Homo sapiens: one gene and its partners. The protein of the gene in region 3 interacts with the protein of the main gene of each other region in a pairwise test. Each region holds a gene or a part of one and is shown on either strand. Other genes may lie near its edges. The genes, in order: VASP, CCDC57, ABI1 and NHSL2.

Region 1 (7,482 bases), on a different chromosome or scaffold from region 3:
AGATCTGGACGCGGCTGAAGGCCTGGGGACCCGTGCCAGCAGGGAGCCATCGCTTGTTGCCATCATCATAAAGCATCACAGTGGCCCGGCTGGAACAGATGACCGTCTCGCTGCAGGCGGGAGGAAAAGGGAGAGGGGCCGGTCACCTTCTTATCTGGGTCTCTCCTGGGAGATTCCAAGGGACAAAGACAGTGTGTGGAAGGAAGAGAGTGACACAGAGGGAGGCAGGAGCCACGTGGACAGAAGGAGACGGGGGAGACAGATCAGGAGAGAAAATCAGATCAGGAGAGACAGGCAAACACACAAACGAGATGCAAGAGACAGACGCAGAGAGAGGTGGGAAAGGGAGAGTCGGGTTGACAAAGAGGAGAGACAGACTGAAGGCAGACAGACAGATGAACAGATGGGGGAGGGGTGGGGAAAAAGGATGGGCAGACAGGGGACCTGGAGGAAGAGGCAGACACAGAAAGAGATAAAGATGGTCTTGGCGTGGTGTCTCACACCTGTAATCCCAGCACTTTGGAGGTTGAGGCAGGAGGATCACTTGAGCCCAAGCATTTCAGAGCAGCCTGGGCAACATAGTGAGACCCCATCTCTAATAATAATAATTATTATTATTATTTTTATTTTTGTTTTTGAGACAGAGTCTTGCTCTCTGTCACCCAGGTTGGAATGTGGCCTCGACCTCCTGAGCTCAAGCGATCCTCCCACTTCAGCCTCCCAAGTAGCTGGGACTACAAGCATGCACCACCACACCCGACTAATCTTTTTTTTTTTTTTTTTTTTTTTGAGACAGAGTCTTACTCTGTCACCCGGGCTGTCCTCGGCTCACCGCAACCTCTGCCTCCCAGGTTCAAGCCATTCTCCGCCTCAGCCTCCTGAGTAGCTGGAATCACAGGCATGCACCACCAAGCCCAGCTAATTTTTTGTATTTTTAGTAGAGACGAGGTTTCACCATGTTGGCCAGACTGGTCTCGAACTCCTGGGCTCAAGTGATCCATTTGCCTCAGCCCCACAAAGTGCTGGGATTACAGGGGTGAGCCACCACACCCAGTCCACAAAAAAACTTTTTTAATGAAAAATAAAAAACACAACACAACAAAACTAATAAGAAGGAAAAGATAAAGATGGAGAGACAGGCTGAGGGGTGTAAGAGGCCGAGGCCAATGCCAGTGGGGGGATGCGGGTTAGCAGAGCAGAGGGCAGGAGGGAAGACAGAGGGGCCAGAAGGAGGCCAAGAGCCCAGAGCTGCACTAGGGACCAGCCCCTGCCTGACCTCAGTTTCCCTATCTCTACGCACCCCCCTCCACCACTGCCTGCTCAGGAAGAAGCTGAGGCTTGGGAGGGGAAGTGTGAGGCCTGCAGCAGGTTGGGGACCCATCCCAGACCTCTGAGCTCTTCCTCCAAAGGGACTTCCCGCTGCCCACCCCTCGCCTGGCTCCCCAGGGCACTAGCGGCCATTCCCCAGATACTCCCTGCTCTGTGTCTGGCCTATATTGGGTGGGGCTGGGGATGAAGACACAGCAGTGACCCAGACAGCTCCGGCACCACCCTCCTGGGGCTCACAGTCCAGTGTGGGAGACACAGCTGTCCCCAGACGGTACCAACCCAGGTTTAGGACCAAGGAGCCCAGGGTCTGGGGGTACCCTGAAGGAACGCCTGCCCCAGCCTGGAGAGTCAGGCAGGACTTCCTGGAAAAGGCAACGTCTGACTTAGCCTGGGTGGGAGGTGTCAGTAAACTGGTGCAGAGTTCAGGAGCTGATATCCCCAGACCTGGGTTCAAATCCCCACTGAGCCACCTACTTCATGTGACTCAGGCACATGACCTTCCCACTCAAGACCTCTTCTTGCCTGTGAACTGGGAAAATGACAGTCCCCACCTCCAGGGCAGTGGGGGAGGGGCACATGAATCTGGGCACCTAAAGGGCTTGGTACAGCCGGGTGTGGTGGCTCACGCCTGTAATTACAGCATGTTGGGAAGCTGAGGTGAATGGATCGCTTGAGCTCAGGTGTTCGAGACCAGCCTGGGCAACATGGTGAAATCCCGTCTCTACAAAAACGTACAAAGATTAGCTGGGCGTGGTGGTGTGCACCTGTAGTCTGAGCTACTCAGGAGGCTGACGCAGGAGAATCGCTTGAACCCAGGAGGTGGAGGCCGCAGTGAGCTGAGATCACGCCATTGCACTCCAGCCTGGGCGACAGAGTGAAACTCTGTTTCAAAAAAAAGAAAAAAAGCTAAGTGCTTGGTACAGCGTCCAGCACACGCCGAGAGCTCAGTAACTGTCAACATCCCTCTCATGGGCACCACTGGGGCCCGGGACAGCTACAACCCTCGGGACCCTCCCACCAGCCCCTCTGGGAGGTTCAATCCCCTCTCCCCCAGTGAGGAAACTCAGGCCTAGACAGGAACTCAAACAGGAAGTGACTTGCCCAAGGTCACACAGGGGAAGGGGAAGCACTGGTCTCCTCCCCACCCCACCCACACCAGGCTTTTTCCTGAAATGGGGAAGTTGGTGGTCAGAGGTTTCCGGGGACAGAAATTAGACACCCCCCGCAAAGCCTCTGTCTCTAGGAGGGCTGGGGGCTGGGTGTGACACTGATGCTGGGAAGTCAGGGCAGGGAAAGTCCCTAGGCAGACTCAGCTGTGGGTAGGGACCTGGGGTAGGGACCCTCAAATTTACCTAATTGTGCCATCTCCCTCTTACTAGGCATTTCAGGTGGATCAGGGGCCTTAAGCCCCTCCCCCAAAGTCACTCATTTTATTCTCACTGCAGCTTATCCAGAGAGCCACTCATTCTAATTTTGCAGGTGAGGACTAGAGGCCCAGAGAGGTTGAGTGACTTGCCCACAGTCACACAGCTACTGAGGAATAGAGTGAAGATGTGAATTCAGGCTTCCAAGCCTTAACCACCGGGAACTGTGTGGGCCCCACCCAAACACCAGGTGCCCTTTCCAGACAAACACAGCCTCGGGGGCTGTTTCTGGCTCCTGCTGCCCCTGGCAAGGCAGGGTTAAGGCCTCGGCCTCACCCACACCTGCCACCCACACCCAGGGCCGACTCTGGCCAGGAGCCCGGGGCTGCTGCTGCCCCGCCCTGGCTGCACTTTGCTCTCCCAGGCAGCCCTGCCCTACTGAGGCTCTGGACTGGCCGGAGAACAGGGCGCCTGCTGGGTGACCAAGGGGTGGTCTTGCCCCTCTCCAGGGAACACTATACCCATTGTAACAGAAGGATCCTGTTAAAACACGAGGTGGGGCGGGGAACGGTGGCTCATGCCTGTAATCCCAGCACTTTGAGAGGCCGAGGCGGGAGGATTGCTTTAGTCCAGAAGTTCAAGACCAGCCTGGGCAACACAGTGAGACCCCCCATCTCTAAAAAACAAAACAAACTAACAAAAACCTACAAGGTGGGATGTCTCTTCTTCTTCTTGAAGGCTCCAGGCTCCTACGGAATCAATGCCAAGTTCTCTCCAGGGCCTCCGTGATCTGTGTGTCCTCAGATCTCATTTCTTCCCGCTCCACTGTCCCTTGGGGACTCTGTTCCAGACCCTAGACCTCCTACCCCCATGCTGCTCTTCCCGCAGGCCAGACACATTCCTGCCTCGGGCCTGTGTGCTGCTTCTTCCTCAGGCCTAGCCTCTCCCCACTTTCAGGTCTCTCCTTAGATGTCACCCCTTCCAAGAAGCCGTCCCTCACTCCCTTAGCTGGAAACGCTTCTCTCCTTTTCATCCCCTGCTGCACATTTCATAGCAGTGACCCCTGCCCAACACAATATTTGTCTGTCTCCGCTGCCAAAAAGGCAGAAATTTGTGTCCCAGTTGTTCACTGCTGTGTCCCCAGAACCTAGAATGGCGTCCAACACATAGTAGGGACTCAATAGTTACGAAACATCTGTAAAAAAAGGCAAACTTTGGCCAGGGGAGGTGGCTCACGCCTGTAATCCCAGCACTTTGGGAGGCTGAGGCAGGAGGATCACTTGAGCCCAAGAGTTTGAGATTGGCTTGGGAAGGCTGGGTGTGGTGGCTTATGCCTGTAATCCCAGAACTTTGGGAGGCCAAAGCAGGTGGATCTCTTGAGGTCAAGAGTTCGACACCAGCCTGGCCAACATGGTGAAACCCTATGCCTACTAAAAATACAAAAATTAGCCAGGCATGGTGGCTCATGCCTGTAATCCCAGCTACCCAGGAGGCTGAGGCAGGGGAATCACTGAACCCAGGAGGCAGTTGCAGTGAGCCGATCTCAGACCACTGCACTCCAGTCTGGGAGACAGAGCGAGACTCTGTCTCAAAAAAAAAAAAAAAAAAAAAGGAGAGAGACTAGCTTGGGCAAGATGGTGACCTCCGTCTGTACAAAAAACTTTAAAATTAGCTGGGTGTGGTGGCGCTTGCCTGTAGTCCCAGCTACTCAGGAGGGTGAGGCAGGAGGATCACTTGAGTCCAAGAGGATGAGGCTGCAGTGAGCCTTGTTCAGGTCACTTGCACTCCAGCCTGGGCAACAGAGCAAGACTCCCTCACAGAGCAAGACTCCCTCACAAAAAAAGGCAAACTTTTACCTAGGACACCTAACATTTCTCAGTCAGCCTGGGTCCCAGACACTCTTCTTGGTGCTTGACACCAATTTCCCTGCTGCATGACTCTACAACCTCATGGGATAGGCTCTGACGCTCACCCTTTTGACAAGGGGGAATTGCAGGCACAGAGGAGTGAAGGCACTTGCCCCAGATCACACAGCAAGTAAGCAGAGGGGCTCATAGTTGAAACGAAGTTCCCACAAGTTCTTAACTTCATTTAAAGATGAAGAAGCAGAGCTAAATTGAAATTTTTAAAAGCCAAAGTACAAGGTAGTGTTGATCAGAGGCTTTACAAAACCAAAAAAAAGGTCGGGTGCGGTGGCTCATGCCTGTAATCCCAGCACTTTGGGAGGCCAAGGCAGGCGGATCACAAGGTCAGGAGTTTGAGACCAGTCTGGGCAACATAGCGAAACCCCGTCTCTACTAAAAATACAAAAAATTAGCCAGGCGTGGTGGCGGGCGCCTGTAATCCCAGCTACTTGGGAGGCTGAGGCAGGAGAATCACGTGAACCCAGGAGGCGGAGGTTGCAGTGAGCCAAGATCACGCCACTGCACCCCAGCCTGGGGGACAGAGCAAGACTCCGTCTCAAAAACAAAAACAAACAAACAAAAAAGGTAGGCTAGGCGCAGTGGCTCAAGCCTGTAATCCCAGCACTTTGGGAGGCCGAAGCAGGCGGACCTCTTGATGTCAGGAGTTTGAGACCAGCCTGACCAACATGGTGAAACCCTGTCTCTACTAAAAATAGAAAAATTTGCTGGGCGTGGTGGCGCGTGCCTGTAATTCCAGCTACTCAGGAGGTGAGGCAGGAGAATTGCTTGAACCTGGGAGGTGGAGGTTGCAGTGAGCTGAGATCGCGCCACTGCACTCCAGCCTGGGCGACAGAGCAAGACTCCATCTCAAAAAAAAAAACAGTGAGGAGCATATATAAATATATCTGCACTCAGAGTGGTGATATATGCAGAGACTGTTTCCCAAGACACTAACTGTGGCTGCCTCCATTGAGGGGAACTCAGGAACTGGGGAGGGAAGAAACAAATATTTTGTACCATTTATCTTTTGAGACAGAGTCTCTCACTCTGCACCCAGGCTGGCAGTGGTGTAATCTCAGCTTACTGCAGCCTCCACCTCCCAGGTTCAAGCAATTCTCCTGCCTCAGCCTCCCAGCCTCCACTTCCCGAGTTCAAGCGATTCTCCTGCCTCAGCCTTCTGAGTGTCCGGGATTACAAACGTGTGCCACCACGCCAGGCTAATGTTTCTATTTTCAGTAGAGATGGGGTTTGGGCGTTTGCCACATTGGCCAGGCTGGCCTCAAACTCCTGACCTCAGGTGATCTGCCTGCCTCGACCTCCCAAAGTGCTGGGATTACAGGCATAAGCCACCAGGCCCAGCCACCATTTCAATAATTTCAGTAAGTATTTCAAACTGCTTATTATTTGTTTTCTTATCATGGGTTGAAATTACCTATAAAAACCTAACTCACTACTTAAGTTCAATAAATAAAACTGTAAACTACACAAAAGCCAGAACGAAAATCCCATAGCCATAAAACGGGGGTGCGGGGGCTGTGAGATGGAAAGGAGTTCTGCCCATTTCCAGTGTGTTTTCCCGAAGTCTAGAACCCTCCATTGGACATGAGAACACTTTAATTTTCCAGCCAGCCCAGGACCCACTCCTCCCTGCAAGTCCCCACATTTTGGAAAACTCTAGCACATGGCGGATGAAAAGACGGTTCAAGTTGCCTCCTTGTTGTGTGGCTTTGCCTCTCTGAAACTCAGTTTCCAGCCCTGGAAACAATAACTCACTGGGTTCATTGTAAGGATTAAAAGAGATAATGGACAAAAAGCCCTAAACGCAGGAACTGTAACTTGGTACACGCTCCACATGAAGGAGAGAGCTTCCCATCACCAGAGGTAATCAAGCATGGTGAATCCGGTTTTCACAAAACTTGCAGTCTTACCCTTCCCTTCACTGTCCCCTGAACCCAAGACTTAGCCCATACCCTCCTTATACCATAAAACCTATGATACATATACACCACCCTTCCAAACGACAAATCTTCTTTTGTCGGGGATGGGGCTACTCTAGTCCCTTCCTCCTGGTGGGCCTCAGTTTCCCATAAGTGAATAGGAAGATAAATGTTGCAGCTTCGGTTTCATTTGGCTTATCTGAATTATCTTAAGAGTTTTCACAGTGAAAGCACGTTCCTTTTTTTTTTTCTTTTTCTTCATTAAGAACACGGAAAGCATGTTATCTCTATTTTTTTTTTTTTTTTGAGACAGGGTCTCACTTTGTCACCCAGGCTGGAGTGCAGTGGCAAGAATATGACTCATTGCGGCCTCAACCTCCCCAGCTCAAACGATCCTCTCGCCTCAGCCTCCAGAGTAGCTGGAACTACAGGCGCATGCCACCACACCCAGCTAATTTTTGTATATTTTGTAGAGACGGGGTTACACCATATTGCCCAGGCTGTTCTCAAACTCCTGGGCTCAAGCGATCCTTCTGCCTTGGCCTCCCAAAGTGTTAGGATTACAGGCATGAGCCCCGGCGCCTGGCCCTGTTTGAGTTTAATAGGCACCTTGCCTAACTTTCCTGTGCCTCAGTTTCCCCATCTATAAACTGAGTACCGGGGTGGGGAGGCCACAAGGTTGTAATAGTATCATTGTTCGAACTGCCATGAGGGGCCAGGTGTGGTGGCTGACGTCTGTAATAATAACACTTTAGGAGGTCGAGGCGGGTGGATCACCTGAGGTTAAGAGTTCGAGACCAGCCTGGCCATCACGGTGAAACCCTATCTCTACTAAAAATATAAAAATTAGCCGGGCATGGTGGCAGGCACCTGTAGTCCCAGCTACTCGGAAGGTTGAGGAGGAGAATCGCTTGAACCCAGGAGACGGAGGTTGCAGTGAGCCGAGAT
Region 2 (7,599 bases), on a different chromosome or scaffold from region 3:
GGACAGAGCAGGGCGTGCCACAGGCACTGGCCAGATCCAGATCGGAGCAGGGCCCGCCCACACCCACCGGGCCCTTTCATTTCTTGGCTCCTCTCCTGCCACAGGGCCTGTGAGCCAGACAGATGGAGAAGTTGCCTCTGCAAGTCTGACGTGGGCATTCCCCAAACCTGAGAGGAAGTGGCTTGCTCTGGCCCATGCAGGCTGGTGCCCAGGCGGGGGCCCCCGCACCTCTTGTCCTGGATCCCTGTGCTTTTAGGGCCCTGCAAGAGGCCTGGAGGCCTCAAGCAAGCAGCTTTTGGGGGCTCCCATGGTGAGGTCTGCCACCAAGGTCAGTCTGTGTTCTGGGAAGCAAGAGCCTCAGCCCACACTTACGCCCTCAGCCATGGCCTTCTGACCTTCCTCTCACCCTCCCTTGTTTACCCCACTCAGTGACATGCGGCTGCCTGACACCCAGATGTGTGTCTGGGTGGGTGGGGCATAGGTGCCAGGAACGCAGCTGGGAGCAGGACAGCCAGTTCCCCACCCACCTTGCTCTGCCACAGAGGCATGGGAGGGTCAGGTCCTGGCCGTGTCACTCACCGGGGCACCAGGAAGGGCCCTCGGCCTCCACTGTCGTGGCATGATGAGGGTGGTTGCAGGACGGCCTGGGGGAGCCAGCACTGGGGGCTGTCAGCCCCACACAGGTCCAGGGCTGAATGGTGGTCCCCAAAGAAATAGGATCCAGTCGTAGCCGCTGGTCCATTAGAATGCGGCTTGGGAATAGGGTCATCGCCGACGTAATTGGCTGGGTGGTCCTGCTCCAACGTGATGGCGTCCTAAGAAGGGCAGCACATGGAGACAGACACACAGGAGAAGCCGCATGATGGTGGATATAGGGGCGGGAGGGGGCGATGTGGCTGCAGCCAAGGGTGCCGAGGCTGGAAGGGTTAGGTGCCTGTGGTCCCAGCTACCTGAGGCCAAGGTGGGAAGGATTCTCCCATAGGGCTTTTGGAGGGGCCATGGCCCGGCCGACATCCTCAGCTTTCCTGAACTGGGAAAGAAGAAAGGACCAGTTTGGGGTTCTTTGTTTTGGCGGCCCAGGCCCTGGCTCACACCCTGTCTGCCTTCCACCTGTGAGTCCTGCTGGGTGCTGGAGGCCAGGAGTGAAGGGAATGTGGTCTCCCTCAGCCAACTCCCGGCCACCCGCACTGAGGGTGCCCAGGTGGAGCCCAGCTGGGGAGCTGGGCAGGGAAGGAGGGGGAGGGGTTCTGCAGTGTGGGGGGGGCAGGGAAGGAGGGGGAGGGGTGCTGCAGTGTGGGGGGCAGGGAAGGAAGGGGAGGGGTGCTGCAGTGCTGGGGGGATTCAGTAGGTGTAGCCTCGGGCCTGAGCTGACGGCGGGCGCTCTGGGACCGTGGAGCTCAACCCAACGGAACGGCCCTCGAATCAGAGCACAGGCTGTGAGGGCCAGACCGGCCTGCCCCACAGCTTCAGGAACCAGGCAGTGCCCGTGGCACACCCTGCTCTGTCCCTGGGGCACCCGGGCATGTGGCTCAGCTGAAGGGGTGACCATGGGTGCCATGCTGCTGACTTGGGCCAGCACACGATTCCAGGTCCAGATACCCATGACGTGACAAATGACCTGCTAGGGCCGCATAACTCAACACCACAGCCTGGGCGGCTTAAACGACATTTATTTTCTCACTTCCGGAGTCTGGATGTCAGGGATCAGGCTGCCGGCAGGGTGGGTTCCTCCTGAGGCCTCTCCATGGCTTGCAGACGGCACCCTCTCCCTGCGTCCTCATGTGGCCTCTCCTCTGTGTGCTCACTCCTGGTGTCTCTTCCTCTTCTTTTAAGGACAACAGTTCAGGGTCCCACCCTTAGGACTCACGTAACTTTAATTACCTTCTTAGAGGCCCTATCCATAACACATAGGTTTAGAGGGTTTTTTTTGGAGACAGGGTCTTGCTCTGTCACCCAGGCTGGAGTGCAGTGGCGCGATCATAGTTCACTGTGGCCTCGAAGTGCTGTGTTCAAGTGATCTTCCCACCTTGGCCTCAGGTAGCTGGGACCACAGGCATGTGCCATCACACCCGGTTAATTTAAAAAAATTTTTTTTGGCCAGGCATGATGACTCACACCTGTAATCACAGCACTTTGGGAGGCCGAGGCAGGCAGATCACTTGAGGTCAGGAGTTTGAGACCAGCCTGGCCAACATGGCAAAACCCCATCTCTACTAAAAATACAAAATTAGCTGGGCATGGTGGCAAGTGCCTGTAATCCCAGTTACTCAGGAAGCTGAGGCAGGAGAATCGCTTGAACCTGGGAGGCGGAGGCTGCAGTGAGCTGAGATCACGCCGCTGAACTACAGCCTGGGCAACAGAGCGAGACCCTGTCTCCCGAGCTCAAAGGATCCTCCCTTTGGCCTCCCAAGGTGCTGGGTTCACAGGTGTGAGCACTGTGCCCGGCCCACACATGGGTTCCCATAGATCCCACTTTACAGGCAGGGACACTGAGGCATGCAGAGCCGGGATACAGACCAAGCAAGTCCTGGCTCCTCTTCTGGGTGTCCCAGCCCGTCTCGGACACCCACGCTTACCCAGGCCTGGTGGCTGCATCGTGGACATGGGGGCAAGGCAGCTCTCTGGGTGGGCAGAGGCAGGAGCTGAGGCAAGGATGTGGGCATCCTTTTGGGTACATCTAGTCCTAGAGCTGATCCAGGGGCCAGTCAAATGTGCAGCCAAAGTCGGGTCAACCCCAGCACTGTCCTGTGGGTGGGGGTAGCAGGGAGCCAACAGTCCAGGCCCTACATCCTGTTCTAATAGAGTGACAAGTCTGATGAGGCTGGGGGTGCACAAGCACTGAGAAGGCAGCAGGACAGGGAGCCAAACACATGGGGTGGTGGGGGAAACCAGGGAGCTGGACACAGGGTGGGGGGGTCCTGGGAGTTGGACACATGGGCCAGGTTGGGGGTCCAGGGAGCTAGACACAGGGGGTGGGGAGGGGAGTCCAGGGGACTAGACACAGAGTGGGGGGTGGGTCCAGGGGGCTAGACACACAGTGTGGGGGGTGGGTCCAGGGAGCCGGACATACACATGGGGTGGGGAGGGGGCATCCAGGGAACCAAGTCTAGGCAGAGGCAACTGGCGCAAAGGACCTGAGGCAGAAGAGGGTTTGGTGTGTGAGGCGGGACTGAGGACTGTGGGCGAGGGAGACAGCTCTACCAGGACGCATGGTTCGGGGAGGACAGGCTGCAGGGTGCCTGGGCTGCAGGCACGGCACGGAGAGGAGTGATCCAGTGTTAACAATGTGGGTGGAGGATGACACCAGACCCCTGGCTTATTGCCCCACCAGGGGAATTCCCAGACACCAAACACCCCCTCCACTCCCACGCAGAATTGCGGGCTGAGGGTTCGGGTGAGCCAGGCTGCTCTGTCCCGGGGCCGGGCTCTGTTCATCCATCCGCAGATGGATACGGACACGTGCCTTTTTCTGAGGATGTGAATGGTTGGGAATGGCTGTGCCTGAGGATGTTGTTCCCACAGGATGGTGGGGGCGACTTCGGGCCTCGGTGGGTCCCGACCCCCCTCCTTCCCCCAGTTCCCTAATCAGGGTCTGAGCGACCGCGCGCACGGCCCCTGGGCCCCGCCGGTCTCCGAGCCCGTGGGCAGCGCCGGGAACTCGTGCCCCGGTGGCCGCAGCCGACCCTTAGGCAGGACTTCGTGGCGCCCCCGGCCCGAACAGACCCCCACGGGCAGCCTCGGCCGCCCCGTGCTCCCTTCATCTCAGGGCAAAAGCTCAAGTCAACCCTTCGGGACCGCGAGCCGGGCGGCCTCAGGAAGCGGGCGCCTGGGGACCCTCGGCCGGGCCGGGGGCGGCGAAGGTGGGGGCGCCTCGCGCGGCGGAACCCGCCGTCCCCATAGCCCGGAGCCCCGTCCGGAGTCGCCCCGCTGACCGGTGAGGAGGCCGGGCTCCCTCCTTCGATCTGCGGCGGTGGTCGGGTCGGCCGGGGCGCCCCTCGGACCCGGGCGCAGCGCGGAACCCGGCGGGGCGGGAGGGGCCGGAACCTAGCGCCAGGGACCCCGTTTCCTGTCGGCGGGACCCGAGCGCTGCACCGAGCGCAGCCGGACGCGGCCGACTGACCCGGTCGCTGTGGCAACGCGGCGGGACCTGGCCAGCGCTGCTGGCGGGCGTTAGGGTGAGGTGCGGGCGGGCGGCGTGGGAGGCGTGGGAGGCGTGGGGGGCGCCGCTCCGACCACTCTTCCTGTAGAAAACCCCAGCAGCTGCCGTCCTGTCGGACGCAGCGCTTTGGTGGGGACCTGGAGCGCGAGGTCGACCCTCAGAGCTCGGCCAGGCCCGGACCGGGGATCCCCTCGCGGAGGCTGCGGCGGGGCGGGGCGGGGGTTGCGGCCGCGTGGAGCGGGAGCGTTCCCTCGGTCTCCCGTGGGTGACCTGGGGCGGTGGGCGCTGCCGACCAGGGCCCCGCAGCCCCGGGAGAATTCCCCGGGTTCCGCCGCCGGCAAGGACGGCTCCGCGCCCAGGCAGCCTTACAGTGTCTGTGAGTTTAAAAAAAAAAAAAAAAAAAGAGAGGAAAAAAAAAGGCCGGAGGCGGTGGTTCGCGCCTGTAATCCAGCACTTTGGGAGGCAGAGGCGGGCAGATTGCTTGAGGCCCGGAGTTCGAGACCAGCCTGGCCAACATGGTGAAACCCCCTCTCTACTAAAAATACAAAAATTATTGGGCGTGGTGGTGCACGCCTGTAATCCCAGCTACTCCGGAGGCTGAAGCAGGAGAATCGCTTGAACCCGATGTTGTAACTGAGGGAGTTATAGAGAGAACGCCACACTCTGAGACTACTCAGGAGTCCTGTATTGCCAGCGACTGACAGACTGCTAGAGCTGCAAATTCCCTCGGCCCCGAAGAAGGGGCTAGATTTCTTTTGATACCTTGGTCTAAATAGAGGAGGGGAGGCTAGCTGAAGCGATTTTTTTACAGAAGCAGAATAGGCAAAAAGTTAAAAGATAAATGGTTACAGAAACAGTTACAGGAAAATAAACAGTTCCAGGTACAGGGGCTTAAATTATCACAAAGTGATAAACGCAGGGGCTTTGGGTACCATCAACCGAGCGCGTTCCCAGGAGCTGCTGGTACAGCTTGCTCCAGTTTCTTATCAGTATTTTATCAGTAAGCGCATTCCTGGATGTGCTTGGAGTCAGCTTGCCCCAGTTATGTCCTTAAGGGACGGGGACAAGGGGCTGCAAGCGAAGAAACCAAAATGGTGTCTGTCCGGCCCTCTCAGCTAAGAGAGAGTCAGTCAGGTTAAAACAAAGTAGGGTACCACACCGAGAGGCGCAGGTTGCGGAGAGCCAAGATCGCGCCATTGCACTCCAGTCTGGGAGACAAGAGCGAAACTCGGTCTCAAAAAAAAAAAAAATTATCTGTAACTTAGAAAAAGGATACAAAAGGAGCACAGATTTCCCGTGTGCCTTTTGCCCAGAGCCCCTAGAATGCTGACCTCTTAGAGAACCACAGTTCATTCAGCAACATGTAGACGCTGGCGTTCATGTTGGTATCATCCCATGATCTGGTCTCCAGTATTTATTCTTGCTTAGCAGCTACCTCATGGATGACTTTACCGTGGTCCAGGATCCAATGATGAGTCCACTATTTTATAAAATGCCCCCCAGTTCGGGGGCATTTCTCTGATGTTTTGTCATAATTGATTTCATATTACTGATTTTTGGCAAGAAAACCTCAACAGGGAAATTGTGCCCTTCCCAGCGTCTTACGAGACACAGGATGCCCCTGGCTGTTGGTGCTAGTCACGTCCTGGGGGCTGAGGTGGTGTCTGCCAAGTGTGTCCATAAAGTTAGGGTCCTTCCCTTTGTAAATAATAAATATTTTGTGGGGAAATATCTTGCCACTATGTAAAAGATGATGTTTCTTTCTTTCTCTCTTTTTCTTTTTTTTTTTTCTTTTTTTTTTTTTTTTAAGACGGAGTCTCTCTTTGCCGCCCAGGCTGGAGTTCAGTGGCGCGATCTCGGCCCACTGCAACCTCTGCCTCCTGGGTTGAAGTGATTCTCCTGCCTCAGCCTCTCAAGTAGCTGGGATTACAGCCGCCCACCACCACCCCCAGCTAATCTGTGTATTTTTAGTAGAGACGAGGTTTCGTCATGTTGGCCAGGCTGGTCTCAAACTTCTGACCTCAGGTGATCCACCACCTTGGCCTCCCAAAGTGCTAGGATTACAGGTGTGAGCCACCGTGCCCGGCCTTTTTTTTTTTTTAATTAATTTTATTTTTTTGAGACTGAGTCTCTCTCTCTCTCGCCCAAGCTGGAGTGCAGTGGCTTGATCTCGGCTCACTGCAACCTCTGCCTCCCGGGTTCAAGTGATTGTCCTGCCTCAGCCTCCTGAGCAGCTGGGATTACCAGCGCCTGCCACCATGCCCGGCTATTTTTTTTTTTTTTGTATTTTTAGTAGAGACGGGGTTTCACCATGTTGGTCAGGCTGGTCTCGAACTGCTGACCCCAAGTGATCCGCCCGCCTTGGCCTCCGAAAGTGCTGGGATTACAGGCCTGAGCCACAACGCCCAGCAAGATCTTGTTTCTAACCATACTTCTGTCACTAATTTTAGCACCCATGAGTGTTTCCCCAAAATAACTGTTAATGTGCTATTTGTTAAATGATTTTTCTGTTTCCATTACTCCTACATTTATTAGTTGGGATTTTCCTATAAGAAAGAACCATCTCTTCCCAGGCTGGCTTGCAGGGGCGCGGTCTCGGTGTTAGTGCATCTTTTTATTCCATGGATTCTAACCCATCGCTATCACGTACTTTGTTGCTCACATTATCCAGATTGAGGTGTTAGGAGCCCCTTCAAGTTGGCCTCTCTGTCCTTATAGCACGTCCCAACCTTCTGGGAGCATTTTCTTTCTTTCTGGCATCACAGAATTCAGGCTTATCTTATGCTTGCCTTGACATATCCCAGAATCAGTCATTTCTCCAAGGAGCCCTGGTTCCTTTTAGTTTAGAAGGTAGTGTTTAGAAACCAAGATCCCAGTACCAGATAGACATATTGCTACTGGGATGCCATTTCTTCTTGGCTTTCTTAATGGATAGAGTAGGAAACGTGTTTCTATACACTATACACATGCAAATCTATTTCAGTATATCTGTGTCTCTGTATATATTAAAAACTGGCTGGGTACAGTGGCTCACGCCTGTAGTCCCACCACTTTGGGAAGCTGAGGGGGGAAAATCGCTTGAGGTGAGGAGTTGGAAACCAGCCTGGCCAACAAAGTGAGACACCCATCTCTATAAAAAATTACAAAATAAATTAGCCAGCCATGGTGGCGTGTGTCTGAGTCCCAGCTACTCTGGAGGCTGAGGTAGGAGGACCATCTGAGCTCAGGAGTTTGAGGCTGCAGTGAGCTATAATCATGCCACTGCACTGCAGCTCGGGTGACAGAGTGAGATCCCATCTCAACAAACAACAAACACCAAAAAAACCTGTGAGTTTATTACAAGTTACGCACTTGTAATCAAGTTAGGTTCACCTGTTTCTACTTCATTTTGAGTCCTTACTGATTTTAAGTTTTTTTGTTTTTTGTTGTGCTTTGTTTTT
Region 3 (7,345 bases):
GTTTTATAGAGGAAGTTATGGGCAAAGATAAAATGGATCTAGGAATGAGGCAGAAAAATTAATTGTAGACCCGTTTGATAGGTGTTATAGTGAGCATTACCATATAGGGTTTGTTTTCTAATAGCCCTTTCATCCCTCGAGAGGATAAAATAGAAATCACAGCATTGAAGTGGTTATGGAAATAGGGTCATTATCTGCAAATATTTTAAACCTGGAGCCCTTGGTTGTATATTCAGCACATTATTCCAAGGAGGGTAGACTAAACGTTTAAACCTATATGACAGATAGATTATGGCTGATTTCTTTGATCACGTAAATAGCCCCAGAAATTGGCATTTGATTTAGTATGTTTGTATTATGAACTTCTCCCCTGCAGGAATTATGTAATTCCTGTATCAATTTGTATGAAAACATTTTCATATGTCTTTTGAACTTTTAAAGAAATTTATTGATCAGAAATTTAAGTTAAGCATTAATTGGGTTCCAGCTTTGAATTCTTTAAATTTTAGGAGCATTTTTACCTGATATTATACTAGTTCATTGAACAGAGCTCTAGCCTGACATTTTCCCATTTCCCTGTTTACACCTTTGACTGTGTAAAGCACACACATATATACTGACCACGACCATCTAGAGTTTGAGGTATGAGTCATTTTTATTGTTTTGTTTACTGTAAGTTCCTTTTTGTTTGTTTTTTTTAATTACATCTTCAACACTTTATGTTTAAATCTTAATTGTTGATGTATTCTTAGAAAATCGAATCTTTAGGATCTAGGCTTTCCCTCATCCCGTGCTTATGTTTTACTAGCAATAATGCAAAATTTTAGCTTGCTTTCTACATTAAAAAACTAATTATGAATATAAACCTTTTTAAAAATACTCAATTAGATTTTCTACTGGTTGGGGATTCTTTTTCCATTTTTTCAACTTGTAAAATGTAAATAACAGAGTAGAAAATCTGCACACAGAAGCAGACCTAATACTACCAACTTTACTTTTCTCTTCATCAAAACAAACAATAATCAACAAAGAAACAAAAATCTGTCCACAGGAGACTGAATTTTTAGGGAACCAAAGCTGTTTCAAGCCAAAATCAGGGGCATGAATGAGCAGAGTGAAGAGTGATCAAACCATTAACGTAATGTTACTCATATCATTACTGCAGTCCAAATGACAAAAGTGACATAGATTTATTTTAGATTGTTAACATTTGTCCCGATCTGAACCTTGGAATAAGGAAACTACTCCTATAATCCTTATAAAAAGAGACATTGTCTCCTAACACCCTGCATTCATTAATTTGTAGTACTTCCAGATACCCTTATTTTTAGCTCATTTTGTTATTTTTAAATGATTCTTGAGTAGCATAAACTTTAACACACCAAGCTTTTATTTCTAATCATTGCATGTTTTATTATAGTGCATGCTGTACTTAAGTTAGAGCTTTCTTAAATTCTGTTAACTTATAAGTTTCCATCTAGACTTATTTTTGATTCAAATCAATCATATGAATCTTTTTAGTTGCTGATAGTCCAACTCCACCGCCACCACCTCCACCAGATGACATTCCCATGTTTGATGACTCTCCACCTCCCCCACCACCACCACCAGTGGATTATGAAGATGAGGAGGCTGCAGTAGTTCAGTATAATGATCCATATGCAGATGGGGATCCTGCTTGGGCCCCCAAGAATTATATTGAGAAAGGTAAGGTACAGTCATTGAGTTGATGTGAAGGAAAATAACCTAATTGTAGAAATTTAGAACTATAAAGAACATCTAATCCAATGTTTCTCAGCCTTTTAAACTGCCTTACCAACCAAGATGATTTACTTAAACCTTACTTCCTAAGTTTTGTATTATTCCCAGTGTACAGGGGGATTCTTTCTTTGTATTTTAAATAAAAGTTGCAGTGTTAGATTTGCTTTCAAACTACATATGCGTTCAGCTGAAGATTAACTTGCTGGACGGCATTTTATAGATGAAACAGCTAAGGCACAAAAATGGAGTTATATGTAATTAGTAAAGATTTTAAAAGTTCTGTCAAGCTCTATTGATTACCTTTCATATCTAAATATGGACGGTCCCTGATTTATGATGGTTCACTTTAGGATCTTTTCAACTTTATGATGGTACAAAAATGATATGCATTCAGTATGCTTCTCAACTTATGATGGAGCTTTGTCTGGATAAACCTGTTATAAGTAAAAAAAATACAAGTTGAAAATGTACTTTCAATTTACAATATTTTCCACTAAACAGTGGGTTTATTGGGACATAACCCCATTGTATGTAAGTGGAGGAGCATCGGTCTTTAAAAATATATTAGTACTATCATGAGAAAAGCCTCAATTAAGGTTTCAATTAGGTGATTTTATAAAACACAAGAGAAATTATCAGGATTGTATTTCATGAAATTATGAACTACTCTAAAGTCTAATTTACCTATAGTACCCGATATTCACTATAATTATCTATTAAGAAATATAGGTGGGGAAGAAACAAATCCTGTTTCTAGTTTTTATTTTTTCATCCAGTTCTGTGCTATTTTAAAATCTGTATTTCTTTTTGCAGAAGTGGGAATCAATTAAAAATAAAATCTGTATTTCTATAGAGTTCTGAAAAATGCTTGTGATTTAGTTGAACACTTTTGGTTGCCTTTGAAATATATTTCCTTCTATTGACTTTACTGGGTTAACGGACTTTAAGCTAGTAGATGTAGCTCTTGAGACCAGCAGCATTCTTTCCTGCCCAAGTTTTGGATATGTGGCAAAAGTAAATTTGTTTTCCTTTTATATTTTTTTATTTTTTGAGATGGAGTCTTGCTCTGTCTCCCAGGCTGGAGTGCAGTGGTGCAATCTCGGCTCACTGCAACTTCCGCCTCCCAGGTTCCAGCAATTCTCCTGCCTCAGCCTCTTAAGTAGCTGGGATTACAGGTGCCCGCCACCACGCCCAGCTAACTTTTGTATTTTTAGTAGAGATGGGGTTTTGCCATGTTGGCCAGGCTGGTCTTGAACTCCTGACCTCAAGTGATCCGCCCATCTCAGCCTCCCTGTGCTGGGATTACCGGCATGAGCCGAGCGTGGCCTTATATTTTTAAACAGTAAGTAATTTACATATTGTTAAGAAAGTCTTGAATATTCTACTTGAGATTCCCATATACCTTCAAATAGAGAGCTGTTGTTACTTACGAGGATGATAAACTTGAGTGACCTTGAATTGTGTTTTTACCCATATTTTCTTACTTGGTGAAGCCAATTAACTGTGAAAATGGGACCATATTTATATAAGTTGACAAATTTGGAATGATATATTGGGTAATATATTTGATAGTAGAGGAGGATTAAAAAGTATATTCCCAAGAACTAGGGGTGAGCACACTTTGTTTGGTATAAAGCCAGATAGTAAATATTTTAAACTTTGCTGGCTATACAGTCTCTGTCACAACTACTCAGTCCTGCTATTGTAGCGTAAAAGCAGACATAGACAATACATGAGTAAGTAGATGTGGCCATATTGCAATAAACCTTTATTTACAAAAATTGCGTGGTTTGGATTTGTCCATGGGCCATTTTATACATTTTGGATTACTTTCTCTTTCCATAGCAGTTTGCAAAGGAAGTGAATATAGGCTAAGCATCCCTATCTGAAAGTCCCAAATTCAAAATGCTCCAAAATCCAAAATGAGTTCCAACATGATGCCGCAAGTGGAAAATTCCACACCTGACCTCACGTGATGGGTCACAATCAAAATGCAGGCACATGACACAGTTTATTCAGTGTTCCCAAGGGAAAAATAAAATTACCTTCAGACTATGTGTATAAGGTGTATGTGAAACAAAAATGAGTTTTGTGTTTAGACTTGGGTCCCATCTCCAAGATGTCTCATTACGCATATGTAAAATTCCAAAATCTGAAAATCCCAAATCCAAAGCAGTTCTGATCCCAGGCATTTCAGATAAGGGTTACTCAACCTGTATCTTGAACTGAAAAAATTACAGACACCACAGAATTGCAAAGTTCTCTAAGTATTAATTAAAATCCTTTAAAGTAAGTAAATATTCTTTAAAAAAAAATCTGGGGACAGTCCCTTAAATTAGCATGGGTCCTTGAATGAGTAGGATGTGATTTACCTTCCAGTAACTGTGTTTTTTCAAATTAGATAGCTTGGATTGTTACCTGGTTTACTGAATGGCTATGCAGCTTTCTTTGCCTGATAATTATTTTGAAAAGCCGGTGCTTTGCATATGATAGGCACTTGGTATTTGAATGAATTGAAACATCTAATAAATTCTAAAATTCAGAGAGCTTTCTTAAAGTGATTGACAGAACCTATTGATGTATTCAGTCTAATCAGATTGTCATTTGGCTCTAAGATTAAGCCAATGATTTAAGTACATGGTTGGCCACTGACCTACTTATATTGATAGATACAAAAATTAAGAAATCTTCATAAAAATAGTTTTGCTGTGCTATATATTTAATTGTCTTTGTCTTAAAATTCAAGTAAATTTTGGATATAGTGCACTCATGTGATATTTCAACTGTTTTTTCCATAGTTGTTGCAATATATGATTATACAAAAGACAAGGATGATGAGCTGTCATTTATGGAGGGTGCAATCATTTATGTTATAAAGAAGAATGATGATGGCTGGTATGAAGGAGTCTGCAATCGAGTGACTGGTCTGTTCCCTGGGAACTATGTTGAATCAATCATGCACTATACTGATTAATTTTTTTTTTTCTTTTGAAGTAGATTCTTATTACTCAGTCATACTGTGGGACTATTATGGTTAACAGAACTGTCTTAATATGTTTTAAAATGTGCCCATATTTTCAGAACATGCTGTTTTATTGGTAAATTGAATGTCTACCTGTAAGCATAAATCTTTGAGGCAGTTTATGTATTGCTGAATAGCAATTTATACAAGAAGCTGTCCATAACTGATTATGCTTATGTACTTACTTACACATTTTTAACTTTATGACCAGCCTAAATATTCTGGGGGAAGTGGGGTATAATATTTAACGAATCATGATTCAGATTGTACCATTACATGTTTCAGTGCAGCATGGTTACTAACGCTATGTCAGACTAATATTAAAATCAGAAAATTTAAATGCTGGTGCTGGTCAGACTTTTTTTGTTAGATTCTCTCATTTAAAAAAAATACTGTTTGTTTAAAGCATGCATAAAAATTTATGTATTGAAATATACTTAAAAATTCAAGATGCTTCCCATTTGTGTAATATTTACCTGGAGGACTCGTACTTAGGTGTCTTAACGTGAATTGAGTCTCCAAGGTCTCCATGTGAAACAAGCAAAAAGAGAATTATCTGTAATGTTGTAATTTGTACCTAAGTTTTTTAATGAGTGAAATTTGCATTATAAACTTTTTCCATTCATAAATACATAAGTGAACCAAAGGTTTTTGTCCTTTCCTTCACTGATTTGCTTTAAAAAAAATAAAAGATAATGATTTATTGCAGAATTATGATTCTATTTTCTCAATATGTTAACTTGGAAAAAAATTTTAGCCTTATCTTAATCTGTCCCAACAGCAATGTGACGGATTTTTGCAGATTCAAAATCTGCAATGGTTATTTACAAGTCAATCTACTGAATTCCTTTTTTAAATAATCTTTTGAAACTAAGAAAATGTGTCAAATTGTGTGCATTCATTCTGTAGGTAAAATTCTTAAGGATTGCCATGTCAGTCCTTCAGTTGTACAGTGAACTGTTGTACACTGGTTCAATGAAAGGAAGTTAAAAGTACCTTTTACATATTGTAAAAGTGGATACAGTTGATTTGTGAGTAGGCACTCTTTAATCCATTACCTGGCACTAGCAACATTAGAATTTTAAAATAAAATAATTGGGAAAGAAGGTGGGTCATGTATTAATCAGTGAACAGAGATTTACCTAACCAACAGACTTGGATTGTCTTTTGACATAATCAAAATGCAACACATGCACTTTGTGTGTCTCCTCTTAATTGAAGGGAGGGCTGAGGGATGTTTTCTCTTCTTGTCTTGTGTATAATTCTCTATTGCTTAGGATATTAAAGTAGAGCACTCAAGTGTGGGTTTCTGTGTTATTGAGGATTTGTTTGGAATTCAAATTACAGTTATGTACTGGATGCTACAGACTTATAACAGCATAGTGAATGGTAAGACTAGTGCAAAACAGTTATTTCTGAAAATTAAAGACCATTATTGCTACCAAATCAATGTGACTATTTCATATGCATTTTGCCTTTGTTAATTTTAAACAAACAAAGTATCATTAGTGATCAGCTAGCTACCTTCTACTTTCCATTTTTCAAGTGGATTGTTCTCTTAATTTGTATATAACCTGTTGTCTAAATTTTATGTACAGTCTTTTATAATAAACCATTCTCCTATATGAAATTTTGGATACTGTTAAAATATAACTCATGTGGACTTCAATGCAGACTTCACATTTTTCTGACCTTTACTCCTACGGTAAATCAAGACAAACCATTTGAATTTTAACATTGGTTATTTATTTGTGTAATGGCCTTACATGTGGATATTAACAGTGTAAACAATACCACATATAACCATCAAGATACCTTGATTATAATTTATAGGACTAGAATGACAGATTCAGGTGGTTTATTAATTACATTTAAAAAGTTTTCTGAAAAAACTTTTGCAATAAAAAAAAATAAATTGCCCATCAATAAGTTTGATATCTTTTAAAATGATTTTTGGTTATCTGCACATGAAGCAAACAAAGTGTATTCCACAAAATTCTTTAGGCACAGTCTGGTAAGATAGCTGCCAGAAAGAACAGAAAGAGTTGTCATTTATCTCTTGTGAGTACAATTTCTGAAAGCTGAATGAGGGCATCTCTTTCTGGGGATGGTCGAAGTTTACTGATCTCTCTTATTGCTTCATGGCAGTACTGCTGGGCGAGGTAGGTTGTTTGTTGCACACCATCACTCTATAAGATACAGAACAAAACAGAACAGATGCCTGTCACTGACTGAATCAGCGTTTTAACTTCCTGCTATAATAAATGAACACATAGTTTTGAGATCAGATGAGCTGAGGATTACAGTTAACAGTCAAACTACATCTCTAATGTTCTTTTCCCGACTCATAGTGCTAACTTCCTTTAGGCCTTTTTCTCATATTGAAGCAAATTTTTATTCTATTAGCATGCAAAGCAACTAGCTCATCAATATTACATAGTCATTCGTTTTCCCCTAATTTTTACTTATTAGAATTTCTCAGAAGTTCTATGTACAAAGTATCTTTATACAACATTTTTAAATGTAAAAAAAACACAAGTAAAACTTACTTAAAAAATAAAG
Region 4 (7,482 bases), on a different chromosome or scaffold from region 3:
CCTATGTTCTCTTATAATGTTAAAAAATATATTGGCCGGGAACGGTGGCTCACGCCTGCAATCCCAGCACTTTGGGAGGCCAAGGTGGGCGGATCACGAGGTCAGGAGTTCAAGACCAGCCTGACCAACATGGCGAAACCCCGTCTCTACTAAAAATACAAAAATTAGCCGGGCATGGTGGCGGGTACCTGTAATCCCAGCTACTTAGGAAGGCTGAGGCAGGAGAATCACTTGAACCTGGGAGGCAGAGGTTGCAGTGGGCCGAGATCGCACCACTGCCCTCCAGCTGGGCGACAGAGCAAGACTCAGTCTCAAAAAAAACAAAAACAAAATATATATGTAACCTAACCTCGCATTATTACTGCTTACAATTAATTCATCTGCGAGATCATTTTTTTTTGTCACTTACTTTAATCTAAGTCTGCATCATAGTTCATGCTCATTATCCACAAGTATAATTTGTAAAGGATTGCGTGTTCAAATAAGTCAGGAAACTGGGTCTCTCCCAGCTTTAACATCTATAACAGGAGTTCTTCACCTAAGCTGCACGGTAGAATCACATGGGAACTTTTAAATAGTACTGTTTCTTGGGCCTCATCCCCCAGAAATTCTGGATTTATTGGTATGGGGTGGAGCCACAGCATTAGTACTTTTTTTTTTTTTAACATTTAGGGTAAATTCTACCAACATGTTGTACTGATTACAGAGGACTTTGTTTTAAGCATCACTATATCTTGGTCAATAATATCTATTGGTCTACATAATGATTTTGTATAATTACTAAGAATTTAGCAAAACATTAACAATTTAAAAAAACTCTCTAGGTGCTTTAGATTGGCAGTCAGAGTCTATATGAGTCTACGGCTGTAATTAAAAAATGAAAAATGCAATCAGACATGCAGTGTGAAGGATTCTACCCAGGGAGATGGCTGGATTGCCTGGTGGCCAGGGCATCTTGTAGACACTGCTGAGGTGTGCCTATGTCCTTGAGGCTGCCTGGCTGTGAGCTCAGGTTTTCCTCGCTTCATATCCACGCTGGTGAGAGTTAGGCATGCTGGGCCCTCAGGCAAACTGCCCAGTACTTTACTGAAACACGCTTAGGCCCCATAAGTTCTGTGAGAAGGTGTTTCTTCACCCATAAACCAGGCTGGTTCTGTAAAACTGGTGAGCTCAACCAGGAGCCATGCAGACATCCCAAGGGGAAGAAAACAGAGAGCCAGTGAGACACTTGGACAAGAGCTCTGCCCAAAGGCAGGGGACACTGCCTGGCTATGCGGCTTGCATCCATCCTCTGCTGCTTCATTAAAGTCCCTCCTTGGCATCCCAGCCTGGCAGGTTCTGTGGTCAGCCAGCACCACATATTCTCTGTGACAATAAACATCTCATAGCTGCCTTGACTCTTGGTGGTGCCTCAGCTTCAGTTCCAAAGAATGTTTTCCCCCTTGGTTGGCGAGGCAGTGAACAGATGTCAGTGGGGGAGAATGAAGGGAGGAGTCAGAGGAAAGGAAAATCCTCGGGTTGGGAAAGATGAGCTGACAGCCTCAAAGGCTAGATGCGGCTCCTCCGTGGGCACACAAACATTCTTTACATATTCTGGAAAAGGGAAGAATGGCTGCAATTCATAGCTGTCTAGGAACATTCTTATTATAACTTCATCTTGACAGTACCCCCATCCAGGGATTTCAGCAAGCTTCGTGGAATTTCACCTTCTTAGTATTTAGTGATGGTGTCCATGGTTGCAGCATAGGCACCAGGCATTTCATTAATACATACATTATTTTGGATCCTCACAACAACCCTGTGAACTGGGTAGTATTTAACCCCATTTTACAGATGAGGAACTGTGGCTCAGAGACACTAGAGTCAGATAGTAGGTGCTGGGCAAGTGGGACTTCACCTGGAAGCTGACGATTCCAAATCCAAAGATCCTTTTCCTTAACATGTCATCCATTGTCTTTTCTATTTACTAAAAGTAATAGATGTTGATTGGGGAAATTTTGACAAATACAGAATGGTAGAAGGAAAATACTACCACTCATCCCCATAATCCCATCACCCTGAGATAATCATTGTCAGCATTTTGGCATAGGCTTCTCCAGTTTCTTCTTATGTGTATGTGTCTGTGTGGGTGCTCTGTTTTAGACGATATTGTATATAGTAGTAAATTTTATCTTTGGTTTTTACTCAGCATTATTTTGTGCATTTCCATGTAGCCTTATAATTCATTTAGAGCATAGCTTTTCATGGCTGTATATTAGTCTATCACATAGACCTAGGAAAATTTATATAACCACTCCCCTATTATTGAATGTGTAAGTTATTTTCCTTTTTCTGGCTAATGCAAATAACCAAAAAATGCAGTGGGGGTTCCCTGCACATTTTTCCCCCCACAATATCTGATTATTTCTTTAGCATAAAATCCTGGAAATGGAATTACTGAGTCAAAGGAGACACTCAGTGTATAACAACAAGGCCTGTCTTGCTGACAACTCGGAGATACCACCTCCTGCAAGGGCAGAGAACTGCCCTCCCCCTCAGCCCCCAAGGACAGAGGATGTTAACGTAAGGAGACCTCAATCACCTCCGGGCCTCCTAGTCTGGGGGAATAATTTGAGTTTGGTATTTTTCAGTTACTGGGGATCAGGCTATAAATTGTCAGGCAGCTAATTACACTGTGCTCGGAAGCAAATGATTCCAGTCAAAATAAAAACAGATGATAGATATTTTTTAAAAACTCATCTCCTCTTTGAGTCCATTTTAAAAAAAAAAAAAAAATTCTGATTTTCCCCTTGATGAATTACAGACGATTCTGAAGAATCTATGCTATTCAGAAAGAAAAATAATAATAAAAGATATCGTCAAGCCTCAAATTTCCCCACTCACAGAAAAGCAGGGGCATAAATAATACATTTAGCTTTGGAGTGCAACTGGATACACACAGCCGGGGACACACAGGCAGGTAGACTCTTGCTTTCTCTCTCTTTCTCACTGTGGCTCGGAGCCCCTCCTGCTCTGTCTAGCCTTTTTAGAGGGGCCCAGGGCCTGGCCCTGCAAAGCATGAAGGAGCCGAGGTTGCCTGGGTCTCATCTGCCCAAGGATAATGAAAACTTGAGTGTAGATAAAGAAAATCCACAGTTAGTTAATATTACAACTTCATTTGAACCATGCAGTTTAACCTTCTCAAGACCCTCATATCCAACTCCCTGACGAACAAACAGGATGTGAGGAACTTCCCACCCCACCTCCACCCTGGGGGCTTATTCTGAGTCAGGAGGTGCCTTGCTCCCTCTCCTCCTGAATCACTGGCAGTGAATTCCTCCCCCACACCAGCTCTCTCACATATCCAGGGCTTTGCACAGGCTACTTCCTGAGCCAGGAATTCCTTCCCCCACCTTCTTCAACCTTCAACGGCCAGCTCCAGATCATCCTTCAGAACTCAGACATCACATCTTCCTGGAAGCTTCGCTCAGCCTCTGTCCTGAGTCAGGTGTGCCTCCTCTGCCTTGCCCCGGTAGCCTAGACCTTATCTCCACAGCACTATGGCTCACTGTTCTCCCCACTGGACTGTGGGCCTGCATCCTAGTTCTACTCTGTACCCCCAGAAATCAGCACAGGGCAGGGCCCAGAGTCAAGTACTCAAAGAGTGTGCGATAGCTAGAAAGAAAGAAAGAAGGTATTCAATCTAACAGGTATTTATTAAGTGCCTATTAGGTGCCAAGCATTGTTTTGGGAGCTGGAGACACAACAGTGAAAACAGATAAAGACTACTACCCTCAAGGAGCTTATATCTTATTGAGGAGCTTACATTTTAGAAAGAGAGGGAGGGAGGAAGGGAATGGAAGGGAGGAAAGGAGGGAGGGAGGGAGGGAGGGAGGGGGGAGGGAGAGAGGAAGGGAGGGAGGAAGAGCTGCCTAATTGCTCAAACCTCCCAAGTTAACTGGCTGATACCTAGTGGTCTTGTGCATGACCTCATACAAAGCACTTTACTGCAAACTACCTGTACACTTAATAAACATACCTCCTGTTTGTGGCATTATTAAAGTAGTCTTGACTGTTAAGATTGCCATCCTGTGCCCTCTAACTTGAAAACTTCAATGAGGGCTTATTTGAGTGAAATTGTGGAGTTCCACAGAGCAGGGGAGAGCTGATAGCTTGAACCAGGAAGGCCAGCGATTCCCAACTGACAGTAGAGGACTCTAGAGGACCATAGAGTTATCACAAGAAGTCTGTTAGTTTGCAGATCCACCAAGCATTGTCTATGGACTGAATAAGCACTACTCTTCATATGCATGAAGATAACATTATAGTGTTTAAAACTGCAAATTCATTTAAAAGCATTGCTAAATTCACAATAACACTAACAGAATGACAGATTGGTTTTTATTTTTGTTTTTACCATAGGGAATTCTAAAAGTCCAAATTCCATCTTTGGACGCCAAACCGGACTGAGCAGAAGAATCTTCTGGTATGTGAACTAGGGTCCTGGTTCTGGTTATCAGCTCTCCTCCACCTAAATAAGACCTGATTCCCAGGCACCACATGCTGATGTGGTCAGGAATGAGATGGCACCTACCTCTGCAGCTTGGCAGCTCCTCGAATGGAGACATTGGGTCTTATTCACCTCTGGGTCTTTAGCACCCAGCACAAAGGTCAGACAGGGTCCAGACGCAGTTGTGCCCACTTTTCGAGGCTAGAAAATAATGATCTAAGGAAAAGACGATTTGAGGCCTTCAGAAAGGGAATACAGCAGCAAAGCCAGTGAGCCTGTTAAGCTACTTGAGCACTGAAGGATAAGAAATCCATACCCTGTAAATGTGTATGCTAAATGCACTTTTGGTAATAATGTTACTTTCTTGTTCCCATTGGTTTTTAATAAAAGGTGCCTTCTGAAATGCCAACCAGCCTCTACTAGAATAACAGAAAATAGTCAGGATGCAGGTGTGTGGCAAGTAGTGTCTACAACTGGATTGAAAGCTACAAGGGAGAAGAACAGGTATAAAGATGGCAGAGGGATCAGGAGGGATTGCAACAGTGTCAGGGTCACTGGCCAGCCACCCCTTCCCACCTGAAGATCCTTTTTCTGGAGCAATTTTCCATTCAAAGAAGACTATGTTTTGCTTTAACAAGAGAGCCTGTTGCCTCACACCTATTCTCTATATTCTCTATATGAGAAAGTTTGACCTTCCTTTCTCCTCTCCAGCTTCAGCTCACCCCCGGCCACAACTACAGAACCACAGGGTGCCCTCAGTTACTAAAGGTAACAGGAGTTATTTCTCATCCTGGACAAGTTCCAACTAGAGAAAATGCCAAGAAAATGACTCTCGAAGAACAACTGACTTTGAACTTAGCATCACTGCAGAGGGCAGAGCACTAGTCTGGTTGTCAGAAGGCATGGCTTCTAGGTGGAGGCCTCCTGTCACTGACCTGCTGTGTGACCCAGCCGGTACCACATTCCCAAATCAGCAGATTAAATACATGATTAGGCCACCAACAGCAGGGGTACAAAAGACAGAGAGGAAGGGAGAAAGAATCTAGTAAGATATTTTAATTTCAACATCCATGTGAGCTTTGAGCCATTTAAAAAGAGTAACATTTTTGTTTAAAGGTTTAGTATTGCTTTCACTTGGAATTACATATGGGGAGGCACTAAAATCTTTTCAGCACTCATGACTACTGAAGGTCTTGATCCAGCTGGGTGCCTTTGGACAGGTACCTTCCCCTTTCTGGGTCCGGGATGTCAAGTGTTATGACACATATGGTGGTTAATGACTGAATTGTTGGTACCACACCAGAGAGGTACAGGAACAGATGATGTAAATATACCACTCTCCTCCTAAAACCTAATCAATGTCGTCAAGGTCAAGGTTGAGCCCAAGAGCCATAACTTGAATCTTCTCCTATTACTCTACTATTCCAACATCCTGACACTTTTATCACTTTAGCTATTCATGTGTCTTAAAAAAGAGAAGATTAAATGTCTTGTTTCTAAAGTGGAAGAAATTCTAGTGGACATTTTGGTATCCAAATCTCCAGGGAAGATGTTTTCAACACATGGAAATACCATGAAGCAGACCAGGAATTTCATGGTATTTAAAAAGAAAATGGAAAGCAGGGTGGGGTGGGAAGAGAAAAGAAAATGGGTTTGCTTCTCCCTCCATACTCTGTCAACCCTCTGTCCCAAGAGCCTCGGGATGAAACGTACCACAGAGACAAAGTAAGCCCTGGCTGAGTGCCTGTTCCAAGTCCCCAAATTCCTGCCACCCTCCCCACTCCATCTGACTCAAGAGGCCATCTCTTCTCTTCATTAGCAAGGACGGTCAGACTCAGGGTCCACAACACCTCATCTAATGGCAAACTCATTGCAGTCTGGAGGTGCTTTTTTCATTTTTTCATCTCCGTATAGATTTACAACAGTCTATCCTCACACTGGAATTATGATTTAAACACAAATAAACCAGCTGTCCTTTCTGATTTGGAGCCAGAGTTGCCATAAAGTTGGAAAATCAAGAAGTAGGAATTTTACATAAAGATGAAGAGGGAGTTTTCACCACGGACCCAACTGGCTGTATTCAAGCCAAAATAATTGTAAGAAGCAACAGAACATCTTTCCCACAGCAAGTTCATGAGCTAGTGTAACATGATAGTTTTCCAGTGTTATTAAACATACCTAGAATTATCTAGCCCTTCAGTGACTTCCTTGATGGCAAAGGAGATATTATATCCCTACGCGGATGGCCTGATTGCTTTTGTAATTATCATCTAAGCACCTACAAACATTATATAGATCTCCAAGGGAGAAGTTGGAAAGCTTAGATTGACTCAGCATATGGTGGCAGGCATGGAGCTATTTCCCAATGGCTTTGACTACACCATTTTTTAGATGAAGAACCCAGTGTACAGGCCACAGATGCCATAAAACAGGACACATTCAAAACCAGATGTGGGGAAAACCTCAACTTATAGGCAGGGCCATGCCTAGGGTGTGGCAACTGCCACAGATCCACAACCACAGGGGCCTTCGGCAGTCCTGTGGTCTACCGTCTCCTCCTTCCATCCCCATCTCCCACACCATACCAGTTACAAGAGCTTTTAGGGCAGTCTCAAAGGGGTTCATGTTACCAAAGAACAGCCTTCAGTGGAGTGGGTGGGATGTTGCGAGGCAACTAGCCTAGCCCAGTCCACCCCTGTAACCTTGAAGATGGTGGGGGCATGACCCATGATTGTGATTGTGTAGAGAAGCACCTTCAACTTCTTCAGCATCCACTTTCTCCTCCTCTATCTCGCTCCTCCTCTCTCTGTCCTCCCCTGCTGCTTCTCAGGGCCCCAGCCCAGCCTGCAGGCTATAGGCCAGTCTGACTTGCCACTACTCAGTCAGTGGCAGCCAAGTTGTCACTGCAGGGAGGCTATATACTGCTGGCCTGTCAGCTGTCATTCACTCTGGCCATGTTGCTTTCCAACCTTCCTCCCACCTTCCCAGGTTTC

Evidence for each region.
Region 1: the proteins of ABI1 (region 3) and VASP interact in binary tests that used the Homo sapiens proteins (3 or more experiments, as listed by UniProt).
Region 2: the proteins of ABI1 (region 3) and CCDC57 interact in binary tests that used the Homo sapiens proteins (3 or more experiments, as listed by UniProt).
Region 4: the proteins of ABI1 (region 3) and NHSL2 interact in binary tests that used the Homo sapiens proteins (3 or more experiments, as listed by UniProt).

What each region holds. Positions count from the first base shown.
Region 1 is NC_000019.10:45,510,291-45,517,772, reverse strand, and holds part of VASP (vasodilator-stimulated phosphoprotein), read right to left. Parts: intron 111-7,482; coding exon 1-110. UniProt on the Homo sapiens protein: Ena/VASP proteins are actin-associated proteins involved in a range of processes dependent on cytoskeleton remodeling and cell polarity such as axon guidance, lamellipodial and filopodial dynamics, platelet activation and cell migration.
Region 2 is NC_000017.11:82,209,361-82,216,959, reverse strand, and holds the start of CCDC57 (coiled-coil domain-containing protein 57), read left to right. Parts: upstream 1-4,117; 5' UTR 4,118-4,175; intron 4,176-7,599. UniProt on the Homo sapiens protein: Pleiotropic regulator of centriole duplication, mitosis, and ciliogenesis. Critical interface between centrosome and microtubule-mediated cellular processes. Centriole duplication protein required for recruitment of CEP63, CEP152, and PLK4 to the centrosome.
Region 3 is NC_000010.11:26,745,960-26,753,304, reverse strand, and holds the end of ABI1 (abl interactor 1), read left to right. Parts: intron 1-1,521; coding exon 1,522-1,707; intron 1,708-4,559; coding exon 4,560-4,735; 3' UTR 4,736-6,709; downstream 6,710-7,345. Other genes in the region: all trans-polyprenyl-diphosphate synthase PDSS1, read right to left, coding at 6,832-6,972. UniProt on the Homo sapiens protein: May act in negative regulation of cell growth and transformation by interacting with nonreceptor tyrosine kinases ABL1 and/or ABL2. May play a role in regulation of EGF-induced Erk pathway activation. Involved in cytoskeletal reorganization and EGFR signaling.
Region 4 is NC_000023.11:71,913,654-71,921,135, reverse strand, and holds part of NHSL2 (NHS-like protein 2), read right to left. Parts: intron 1-7,482.